Homo sapiens: one gene and its partners. The protein of the gene in region 1 purifies or fractionates together with the protein of each later gene. This does not show direct contact. Each region holds a gene or a part of one and is shown in the gene's direction. Other genes may lie near its edges. The genes, in order: FRYL, IQGAP3 and MAML1.

What was found.
Region 2: the proteins of FRYL (region 1) and IQGAP3 purify together in Homo sapiens (co-immunoprecipitation; one large-scale study listed by IntAct). This does not show direct contact.
Region 3: the proteins of FRYL (region 1) and MAML1 purify together in Homo sapiens (co-immunoprecipitation; one large-scale study listed by IntAct). This does not show direct contact.

Annotation. Positions count from the first base shown.
Region 1 is NC_000004.12:48,777,980-48,781,801, reverse strand, and holds the start of FRYL (protein furry homolog-like), read left to right. Parts: upstream 1-1,522; 5' UTR 1,523-1,724; intron 1,725-3,822. UniProt on the Homo sapiens protein: Plays a key role in maintaining the integrity of polarized cell extensions during morphogenesis, regulates the actin cytoskeleton and plays a key role in patterning sensory neuron dendritic fields by promoting avoidance between homologous dendrites as well as by limiting dendritic branching.
Region 2 is NC_000001.11:156,531,066-156,534,565, reverse strand, and holds part of IQGAP3 (ras GTPase-activating-like protein IQGAP3), read left to right. Parts: coding exon 1-65; intron 66-424; coding exon 425-557; intron 558-690; coding exon 691-793; intron 794-1,459; coding exon 1,460-1,586; intron 1,587-3,318; coding exon 3,319-3,406; intron 3,407-3,500.
Region 3 is NC_000005.10:179,735,671-179,739,392, forward strand, and holds part of MAML1 (mastermind-like protein 1), read left to right. Parts: intron 1-3,722. UniProt on the Homo sapiens protein: Acts as a transcriptional coactivator for NOTCH proteins. Has been shown to amplify NOTCH-induced transcription of HES1. Enhances phosphorylation and proteolytic turnover of the NOTCH intracellular domain in the nucleus through interaction with CDK8.

The DNA of each region.
Region 1 (3,822 bases):
CCAGATAGTTCATCGTCTCTTGCCCCCACTAGTGATACCTAAACCACCTTCCTGCAACGTTCCCTTTTGTTTCCTGCTCTTTCATATTTTCGGGAATCCTCATGAAATTTTTCACCTGTATTTGGGGAAAAGTCCTATGAACTACCAACTACTGATGTTTACTTACCCTTCTCTGTCATCATCAAGCCCCTTTTCTAGGGTACTGCTGAGCACTGACACTTCCTTGGCACCATTAGATTATACTGGGGTATCACTGCAAATGTACTAAAGCCCCCGGGGTACACAGTCTTCAAGGTTCATCGGCAAAGAGGGAGAGAACACATAACCATTTTCCCCTAACATTCTTAGATGGGTACCGAAGCTGTACCTGTACTCAATTTTAGTGGAAATAAACCTTTTAGTTCTTACAGCTCCAGTGGGAAACTGGGGAAACTCTAAAGCAGACCCCGCACTAGGCTTCCCCATAATTTCTTCTCTTTTCAATGCGTGAGGTTCTGCTCCATGGTCAAGCTTCTGGTATCAGATTCCCTCTTTCCCTTAGACAGACTCGTTTTCTCCTGAGAGGCATCTCAGTTGTTCAAGTGACCTGGGGTGTTTTTCCTACAGTTCTAGCAAGGGGGAACGAAGTCCTACACTTTGAGGATGGCATAAGGGTACCATCTACTTAATTTTTTCAAAAAAGTAACAGGTCTCGTGGAAACGCGGGAACGTCACAGAGGACGTGACTTAAACGGAACTTGTAATGGAAATGATTTTCTAAATGAACAATTGCGAGACAAGCAAGGAAACCTCCAGGTTTGCAGATAACTTGATTAAAGCTCTTCCGGGTGGCAAAATGCCAGTGCAATCAATGGTATGAGTAGGGCGGACAGTGGATGAAACTTGTTGAGTAAATCTCAGGAGGAATTAGCACTGGACTTTCAGGTATTCTAACTCAATTCTAACCATTCCATTCTCTGGATCATTGGATAAGGTTCCGCAGGATCCGGGCGCCAGCTCTGGATACATTACTGATCGGGAGAAAATTTTGAATTTTTCTCTTGTCCCTTTCCAGCTTTCCTCAATATAGGATATGAGTTTGTCCTCGACCCCTAACAACATTTAAAGGTAAAGTCGCTCCTAGAAGGCAAAGCGGAGAGGACTTTGCGGCTGTGTTTCTCAAGCCCGTAAAGAGAGAGTAATAATGGTAGGGAGCGTGCAGACTAGCTCTTTCCTTGCCCAATCAAGTGTACAGGAAGATGTCCTTTCACCAATAAAAATAAAGTTCGCTTTCCGGAGGCGGGAGGGTGAGCCTTGACTGCCAGGGCTCCAAAGCAACGTTAGAGGCGAGGGCAGAGAATGATTAGAGGGAAGACCAACCCGGGAAAAGGGGCGGGGAGAAGGTAGGAGCAACTTTGAGCGGCGGCTGGCCAGGCCAGTGGAGGGCGAGGACTGCTGTTCCTGTTGTAGTGTTTCTCGCCAATCAGGAAGGCCAGGGGGCGGGCGGGGTAGGGAAGGGGTGGGAAGACCTCGCAGCACAGCCGGGCGCCCGTCGGGCTCTGGGAGAGAGCGAGAGAGAAATCCGGTTAAAATCAGAGTCGGAGGGAGGTTTAACCACAGATCGGTTCCGATCGGATTATTCCTTAAAGGGGACGCGCCATTGTCAAGAGAACGGAGCCAGGGGCCCGAGGGCGGGGACCGGCGGCGCTGGAGGAGCGAGGCAGCTGTACTAGGACTGGGAACGGGTAGGTGTTGACTGGGGAAAGGCGCTTCATTTTACTTTCTCTTCCAGCCCCGGGGCAGGCGCCGGGATGCCCGCCGCCGGCAGCCCAGCCTGGGCGGGAGACGAGGTCGTCGGCCCTCGCCAGCTGTCCTTCCTGGTGGGCGCCGAGGGAAGGCGGTCCAGGATGGCTGGCAAGCGGCGCGGCGCGGCCCGGGCCGGCGCTCGTAACGGACACCAAACCGCGGCGCAACCCCAGCCTCAACCGAAAGCCCGCCCGAGCTCCGGCGGTTCCGCCGGCAGCGCCGCGCGCCCGTCTCTCCCGCACGTCCCCTTCCCCTCCAGTGCCTGGCTCTTCTCGCGCGCGCCCGGGTACCCCTCGCGCGCCGCCTTCTCGCGCGTCCTGCTCTGGTCGCGCGCCGCCTCGCCACCGACTCGCGGGAGCCGCCCCGCGGGAAGGAAGGCGGTGGCAGAGGTGGAGGAAGACCGGCGACCACGGCTCCGCCGCCTCGGCTGGGAAGGGAGGGCTGAGGAGCAAACTTAGCGCGGCGGCTGGCGGGCCCCGGCGGGCAGGGCTGGCGGGGACCGGCGGAGCGCGCCAGCCCAGCCGGGCATTGTCCGCCTTTTCCCTTGCTCTGGTCTCTCCGCCCACTGCTCGCGGTCCTGGGGAGGGGTGCGGGCGCTGTGCCCGCGCAGCCCCGGGCCGTTGGCGTACCCCGGGACCCGGAGTCTTCCGGAGCCGGAGCCAGCCCTGCGGACACCGCGGCCACCGCCCGCGAGCTGACTCGGCCTGTAGATTGCCTGCTGCTCTCAGCCTCGGCACCGGGCAGGGTGCCTGGGCGCTGAGCTCTTCTTTGCAACTTTTATTTGCCGTTTGATGGAAGTTGTTGCTTCCGGGCGGCAGGTTCTTTGGGCACAGCCTGGTTTCCTGCGTTCTGGAGAGGCTGGTTTCTAGGGCGAAATGATTTATTGCTGCCGGTCTTTCCTGCCATCCTAGTTTAGTTCCTCGCCACCTAAAATCGCATTTTTGTGGATTTGCAATGATATGGGAGCATTAATCTTTCCTAGGCCAAGATTTGAAAAGAAAAAAAAGGGGGTGGGGGTTAGGGTGTGTGCTGGTGAGGAGCAAGAGTTCTTAGTAGAGCTGAGTTTGCCCTTACCTTTGAACTGCGGAAAATATTACTTCGATTCACTGGCTGGGGTTCTTTTGGAAGGGTAGGGGAAAAAAGACACAGCAAGACAGGTTGCCAGGGTCTGTCGGATTGGGGGGGAAAAAGGGTTTTGATGGAAGTAAAGTTGGTTTTATAAAATGCTGTGCTGCCTAGGAGATATCGTCTGTAAAGTTGATTCTGCTACTGAATTTACAGCCATTATAATTAGTACCAACAGCTTTTACTATTGATAAAAACTAGTATAAGACGTCTTTTCATCTTGAGCATTATCACTCTGCTTAATCTGTCAATACTTGCCGAGGAAATCAGAGATAGCACATTCCTTGTTAGAGGCCTTAGTGAAGAATGTTTTCATAAGCATTCATTTTTGACAGTTTCTTCTTGTGCAATACTTTATGTAGAGTACTTGCATGTGCAAGTTACAACCGTATAAACAAAGTAGCAGTGGGTGTGTTATTCTCTGGTCTTTTTTCTGCTACTCATTATCAAAAATAGCATTCCATCGTGTCTTGTCTTCCACTCTGAATTATTTTGTAAAATTAGTTCTCTAAAAGAGGGAATTCTGTTGGAACATGTGACCCAGTTTTTTTTTTTTTTATTAAAGCAGTCCAACTTTTTAAAGCGTTCATCGATTAATTTATTGTCTAGTAACTTCGGAGTGGTGTGGAACATTGTAAATTCACAGGCTCAGCAGTAACAATAGAGAAACTACTTGGGAAATTGGAAGCCAATATCAGATAATGTTTGAAATAAAAATCTATTCTTCTCACAGAATTTAGGAAATAAAGACACACAAAAACAAATTCTTTGGGTTCAAGTGATCCTCCCACCCCAGGCTCCGTAGTAGCCGGGACTACAGGTGGGCACGACTGCGCCTAGCTAAAATTTTTATTTTTTGTAGAGATGGTGGTCTCACTTTTTAATTTTTCGTATAGACGGCTGGTCTCCAAC
Region 2 (3,500 bases), on another chromosome or scaffold:
TCTGGGCAGAGCCAGCACCTACGGGTCCTGAATGACTATCTGGAGGAAACACACCTCAAGTTCAGGTCTTGGGTCCCTTTCCTCTCTGTCCCCTTTCTTCCCTCTTCTCACCTTTGACATCCCACTTGTCCCCTCCAGAATCCATGAGGACAAGAGGCATAAATAGAAGGGATGAGCATAATGAGCGGGGTGGAGGATAGGTTGTTGGAAGGACTCCCCAGTGGAGAGAAAAGGAGACTATTAAGAGAGATTGTCTTGAGGGGTCACTGGGACAGAGGTAGGGCAGGACAGAGGGCAGAAGCTGAGACTGGAGAGTCCAAATTGGCCTGAGCAATCACTGGAGAAGGCTGGGGAAATGATGGGGACAGAAGATGTGTGGGGTGCTGGCCCTCCCCGCTCTCTCACATGCCCGCCCTCTGGACAGGAAGTTCATCCATAGAGCCTGCCAGGTGCCAGAGCCAGAGGAGCGTTTTGCAGTGGACGAGTACTCAGACATGGTGGCTGTGGCCAAACCCATGGTGTACATCACCGTGGGGGAGCTGGTCAACACGCACAGGGTGAGGGGCTGAGATCTGGAGGGTGTTGGCTGGGTGGGCAAGGGTTTGGTAGCCTGTGATGGGGTAGTGGGCTGGCCCCAGAGGGAAGACCTGGCTCAGACCCTGCATCTCCTTTTCTTTCTCCGTCCTGCAGCTGTTGCTGGAGCACCAGGACTGCATTGCCCCTGATCACCAAGACCCCCTGCATGAGCTCCTGGAGGATCTTGGGGAGCTGCCCACCATCCCTGACCTTATTGGTACGTGCCCTCCTTAGCAGCTGAGGCCAGCTAGGGGACCTGCATGGAGGGAGGGACAGGCAGGCAGGCAGGGCATGTGAGCGTGCCCATGCAGCCTAGGTCTTGTGCCAGGCGGCTAGTTCCATACTCTCCCTCTGGTCCTGACATGGGCACAGGGACACAGATTGATGTGGAGAAGGTAGACAGACAGTAGAGGGACCCACGATCATCATGGAAAACGGTCAATGAAATGATCTGAAAGAGGCACAGGGATCAGGGCCTCATTAGGTTTCTCTGAGAAGGAGGGGTTTCCGGGCCATGGAATAGGAGGAAGCCAACTTACTGGGAGGAAGGACAGAATGAAGATGGTGATTGGAGAGAACCAGGAGCTGCAGGCTCAGGGAGGCACAGCTCCTCTACCCTCAGGGCACCCAGGGCTGAGGGTGTGGGGGTGGCACAGCCCCAGTAACACAAGGGTATGCTCTGTGGGTAACAGCCCTTCCATCGGTGCTAAGGGTTGGGGACACAGGGTAGTTCTGCAGGCCAGTGTGGGAAAACTTCCTGGAAGAGGGGCATGTGGAGCAGCTGATTTAATGTGACCCCATCGGTGCATGTGTGTGTGTGTATGTGTGTGTGCGCATGTGTGTGTGTATGCCTGTCTCCCTCTCATTCCTCACCACACCTCAGGTGAGAGCATCGCTGCAGATGGGCACACGGACCTGAGCAAGCTAGAAGTGTCCCTGACGCTGACCAACAAGTTTGAAGGACTAGAGGCAGATGCTGATGACTCCAACACCCGTAGCCTGCTTCTGAGGTGGGTGATGCCAGCCTCTGCCCCTGCATACCTGAGCTCCCCAGCCCTGAGGCCAGTAAAATGGCCTTATTCTGAGGCGCCCATTCCACCTTCTTCCTGGGCTCCCTTATCCTTCAGGAAGTTCTCCCTGAAGCCTACCTTTATTCCCCTCGCTGCAGCCTTGGCTCTTTTCCATCTGGTATCCTCAGCTTTTTGCTCTGTGTTGTACTGAAAGTAAAGGAATGGTGAAGATATTGGCAACAGCAGGTGTTTGCATATCGTGCTGTTTACCAAATGCTTTTTTCTTTTTTTTCAAGTAGAGACAGAGTCTCGCCATGTTGCCCAAGCTGGCCTCAAACTCCTGGCCTCAAAGCCATCCACCTGGCTCAGCCTCCCAAAGTGCTAGGATTACAGGATTGACCCACTGCGCCTGGCCCAAATGCTTTTTTAATAAGTTATCGTTTATTCTTAGAAACAAGCTATGAGGTAGATGGTGGCTTCCCCTCTTCATAGTTGAGGAAAGACTCAGTAGTTATGTGATTTATCCAAAGTTCCACAGCCAGTGGGTTGTAGAGCTCATGTTCTAATTCCACTTTTTTTTTTTTTTTTTTTTTGAGATGGAGTCTCATTCTGTCATCCAGGCTGGAGTGCAGTGACACGAACTCAGTTCACTGCAACCTCCGCCTTCTGGGTTCAAGCGATTCTCCTGCCTCAGCCTCCTGAGTAGCTGGGACTACAGGTGCTCGCCATCATGTCCGGCCAATTTTTGTATTTTTAGTAGAGATGGGGTTTCACCATGTTGGCCAGCCTGATTTTGAACTCCTGACCTCAAGTGATCTGCCTGCCTTGGCCTCCCAAAGTGCTGGGATTACAGGCGTGAGCCACTGCGCCCAGCCTAATTCCGCATTCTTGTTGAGTGTGATGGTCAGGAGATGGGCATGGAGCTCTTCTTCCCCAGTTCTACAAAAGTGAGGGAGGACTCCCAGTAGGGGTGAGCTGGTCATCTGGGCAGAAGAGGAGCCAAAGTGCCAGCTCAAGCTCCTGCCAACAAGGCAACCCCTTGCACCCACTCATTCACTCAATAAACAAGTGAGCTGGCCAGGTGCGGTGGCTCATGTCTGTAATCTCAGCACTTTGGGAGGCCGAGGCAGGTGGATCACCTGAGGTCAGGAGTTCGAGACCAGCCTGGCCAACATGGTGAAACCCCATCTCTACTGAAAATACACAAATTAGCTGGGTGTGGTGGCAGGCACCTGTAATCCCAGCTACTTGAGAGGCTGAGGCAGGAGAATCACTTGAACCTGGGAGGCAGAGGTTGCAGTGAGCCGAGATCATGCCATTGCACTCCAGCCTGGGTGACAGGAGTGAAACTCTATCTCAAAAAAAAAAAAAAAAAACAAGTGAGCTGAGTATCATCTTTGTCCTGCCATCAAAGGGCTGAGAGCAGGATCGGGCTAGGGCTGAACACAGAGCACCACCAAGAGGGTGGTGGGTGTCAGATGCATTGAGAGCTAAGGAGAAGGGATGGCTGGGTGGGAAGGACATGTGTGCTCAGCTGAAGGACTCAAAGGCAGATAGTTTGTTGGGAAGGTATTCCAGGCAACGACATCCCCTATCCCTCGCTCTCTCTCCTTATATCCTAGCAGCCATGCTATAGAGCACGGTCCACTTACTCTCAGACCTCTGGCCAGTCCCATGTCCAGGCCCTTCCCCTGCCCCTTACCTCTCCTCTGTCACTGTCCTCCTTGTGCAGCACCAAGCAGCTGTTGGCCGATATCATACAGTTCCATCCTGGGGACACCCTCAAGGAGATCCTGTCCCTCTCGGCTTCCAGAGAGCAAGTGAGTAGCCGGGCTGGCCCACAGGTTCTGTCTCATTCATCCCCCACCTCATCCCACCTGCACCGCTGCTGTTTCCCTCCTCTGAACCTCACCC
Region 3 (3,722 bases), on another chromosome or scaffold:
GTGAGCCACTGCACCTAGCCTATTTATTTTTTTTTGAGACAGCGTCTCGCCCTGTCACCCAGGCTGGAGTGTAGTGACATGATTTCTGCTCACTGCAACCTCTGCCTCCCCGGTTCAAGCGATTCTCCTGCCTCAGCTTCCTGAGTAGCTGGGATTACAGGCGCACACTACCACGCTTGGCTTATTTTGGTATTTTTAGTAGAGACAGGGTTTCTCCTTGTTGGGCAGGCTGGTCTCGAACCCCTGACCTCGTGATCCACCCACCTCGGCCTCCCAAAGTGCTGGGATTACAGGCGTGAGCCACCGCGCCCGGCCTATGCTATTTATTTTTAGCACATGGTCACTTGTTACTTTAGGTCGCATCTTTTCAACTAGACTGTCAGCTCTTGGAGGCAGGGAGGGCTCACACTTGGGTAGTACACATCTGAGGTGCATCTTAAGTGCCTGTTTGTTGAATTATTGATAGAAACTTGGTAGTGCTTTACTCAGTAATCTCTCCTCCTATACACTAACTTCAAAAAGCAAGTTGATGTAACTTCATGAGCCACCTTTCATGGCTCATAGTAACAACTCTTGTAAGGAGGGACTTTTGTTATTTTTTTTTAGGGAGTTTCGCTTTGTCGCCAGGCTGGAGTGCAATGGTGCCATCTTGGCTCACTGCAACCTCCGCCTCCCAGGTTCAAGCAATTCCCCTGCCTCAGCCCCCCAAGTAGCTGGGACTACAGGCTTGTGCCACCACGCTCCCCTAATTTTTTGTATTTTAGTAGAGACGGGGTTTCACCATGTTGGCCAGGATGGTCTCGATCTCCTGACCTTGTGATCCTCCCGCACTGGCCTCCCAAAGTGCTGGGATTACAGGCATGAGCCGCCACGCTTGGCCTGTGTAAGGAAGGACTTTTAAGAGTAGTTCGTGGTCATTGCAATTGAAGTAAATAATGAAAGCTCATAAAAATCATAGTTTAATACACAAATAGTTGCCTTGAATCCTCCCTAGAAAGTATATTAGGGGGGCCGGGAGCAGTGGTTGACTCCTGTAATCCCAGCACTTTGGGAGGCAGAGGTGGGTGGATCGCCTGAGGTCAGGAGTTCGAGACCAGCCTGGCTAACATGGTGAAACCCCGTCTCTACTAAAAATACAAAAATTAGCTGGGCATGTGGCGTGCGCCTGTGGTCCCAGCTACACGGGAGGCTGAGGGAGGAGAATCGCTGGAACCTGGGAGACGGAGGTTACAGTGAGCTGAGATCGTACCACTGCACTCCAGCCTGGGCAACAGAGGGAGACTCCGTCTCAAATTAAAAAAAAAAAAAAAAGGTATATTAGTAATGATTCAATTTTTGTTTAAAGTTGTTCTAAGAATTTAGACCCTGTATGATTTTTTTTAGTCCTGAGTCAGTGGGGGAAACTGGGCATGCTGTTTGAAGAGAAATTAATTCTGAGTGTGTTAGAATTTGAATCTAATTTGTCAGTCATTCCTTTTGATATCAGAGCTTAATCAGATGTGCCATGTTAAGGTGATGTCTTTTTATCACATTAAACCTTGACTTATGGATTTCTTGAGTTTAAACTCTACGGTGGATGTGCTTTTCTGTGTCTCTGCTAGGAAGAGGGACGCTTTGCATTTGGACTCCAAGTTAGTCTAGCTGAGCTCTTTGGCCTTGGAATGGGGTCATCGGAACAGAAGATAAGTATCATTAAGAAAACAGTGGCTCCTTCAATTCAGGGGGGAAGAGAGTCCTTGAGTATGTACGATTTTGGCTTGGAGAAAACAGCTTTGCAGAAAGAGATGGAAAGAAGGTACCTCTTAGTCATTGTTATTTTTGACAACTCCATGTATTTGATCTCATTAATATTTCTTACTTAAGGAATATTATAAGTTCTTAAGTTTTTTCCAAGTGAACTATATACTGTTTGGCAGTCATTTCATAGTTACTTCACCAGCAACCCATTTGTATGACTGAGAAGGGATCAGATTTACTGCTAGAGTTTACTTCACTTCAGATTATTGTTTTCTTAGGATATCCCACCACAGCGAAGTCTTAGCCACTATCTGCTTAGTCTGTTAGAGATGAATCAGAAACACTGTTTCAGGCTTTTTCTCTATTCTAATTTTCAAGGAATGAGTCTATTAGGTTTTCATTTCTTTTCCTTTTTTCTTGAAACAGGGTCTGGCTCTATCACCCAGTGGCGCGATCGTGGGGCACTACAGCCTTGAACTGCTGGGCTCCAGGGGTCCTCCCACCTCAGCCTCCTGAGTAGCTGGGACTACAGGTGTGCACCACCGCACCCGGCTAGGTTTTAAAGTTTTTTGTAGAGATGGGTGTGAGCCACCTTGCCTGGCCGAAAGTTGATTTTCTTACTTAGTTTTAGGTGTGTAAAGTTTCTTTCTCTCTTTTTTAACCTTTTATTTGTAAATAATGTCAAACTTAGAGAAAAGCTCTAAGTTTGGTACAAAGAACATCTGGTTACCTAGATTTACCTGTTGTCACTGTTGTGCCCCATTTGTTATCATTTGCACATTCTCTCTCTCCCACTCTCTGCCTCTTTCTCTCTCTCTCAGACTTTTATTCTCTGAACCACCTGAGAGTATGCTGCACACCTCATAGCTCTCTGCTGCCAAACCACCCCATGTGTACCTTTTAAGAGTTAAGAAAGCTGTTAATTTTGTAGACCAAACTCTTGTAAGAATTATGAAATAACAAATTATTTCCAGGAAGTAGATATTTCTGAATATAAAACAGATACTGTACTGTAATCATGTGGGGCATTAGTTTTTTTAAAAAGATGATCAGTGTGGCTTTAGGATCTCATTTCTTCCTGTAATGCCTGAGACCTTGTCTAGAACCCTCTTTCCTTTTTTGTCTTCAGTATCTCCCTTCCCAACTGAGTCTTTCCCTTCAGCTTGAAATTATGAACAAATATTCTCCACACTGACAAGTCCTGTGTTTTCTCACTGTCAAAATAGTATTCCATATTCTTCTTTCCCTTTGCCCTTCCCACTTGAACTTCTCATTTACTCATTAGCCTATGGTAATATGCCTTCTACCTCTTCTATTACTCTGAAGTTGCCTCCGTAAAGGACACCAAGGATGGACTTGCCAAATTTATTGGCATCTTTTTTTTTTTTTTGGAGACAGGGTCTCACTGTGTTGCCTAGGCTGGAGTGCAGTGGCACCATTATGGCTCACTACAGCCTCAACCTCCCAGGCTCAAGTGATCCTCCCACCACAGCCTCCTCAGTAGCTGGGACTACAGGCGTGAGCCACCACACCCAGCCTCATTGGCATCTTAGTCATCATTCTTCGTGACTTCTTCCTTTTCTTAGCTTCTCCTCTCTTCTGATTTCCTTTTCAGCTTTCTGACTTTTTTTCTCAGTCTCCTTACTATTTTCCCTTATTAATTCATGCAGCAAATATTTGAGCACCTGCTGTGGGCCAGAGTACAATCAGCCCTCCGTATCTGCGCATTCTGCATCTGCGGATTCAACCAACTGTAGATAGAAAATATTTTTTGGAAAAAAAAGTAAAAAAATAACAGTACAACAATTAACACAAATTATAATATGCAGCTCAGCATGGTGGCTCATGCCTGTAATCTCAGAACTTTTGGGAAGCTGTGGTGGGAGGATAGCTTGAGCTCAGGAGTTTTAGACCAGGCTTAGCAATATAACAAGACTCCATCTCTCAAATAGAATAGAATAGAACGGAACGGAACGGAATAGAAT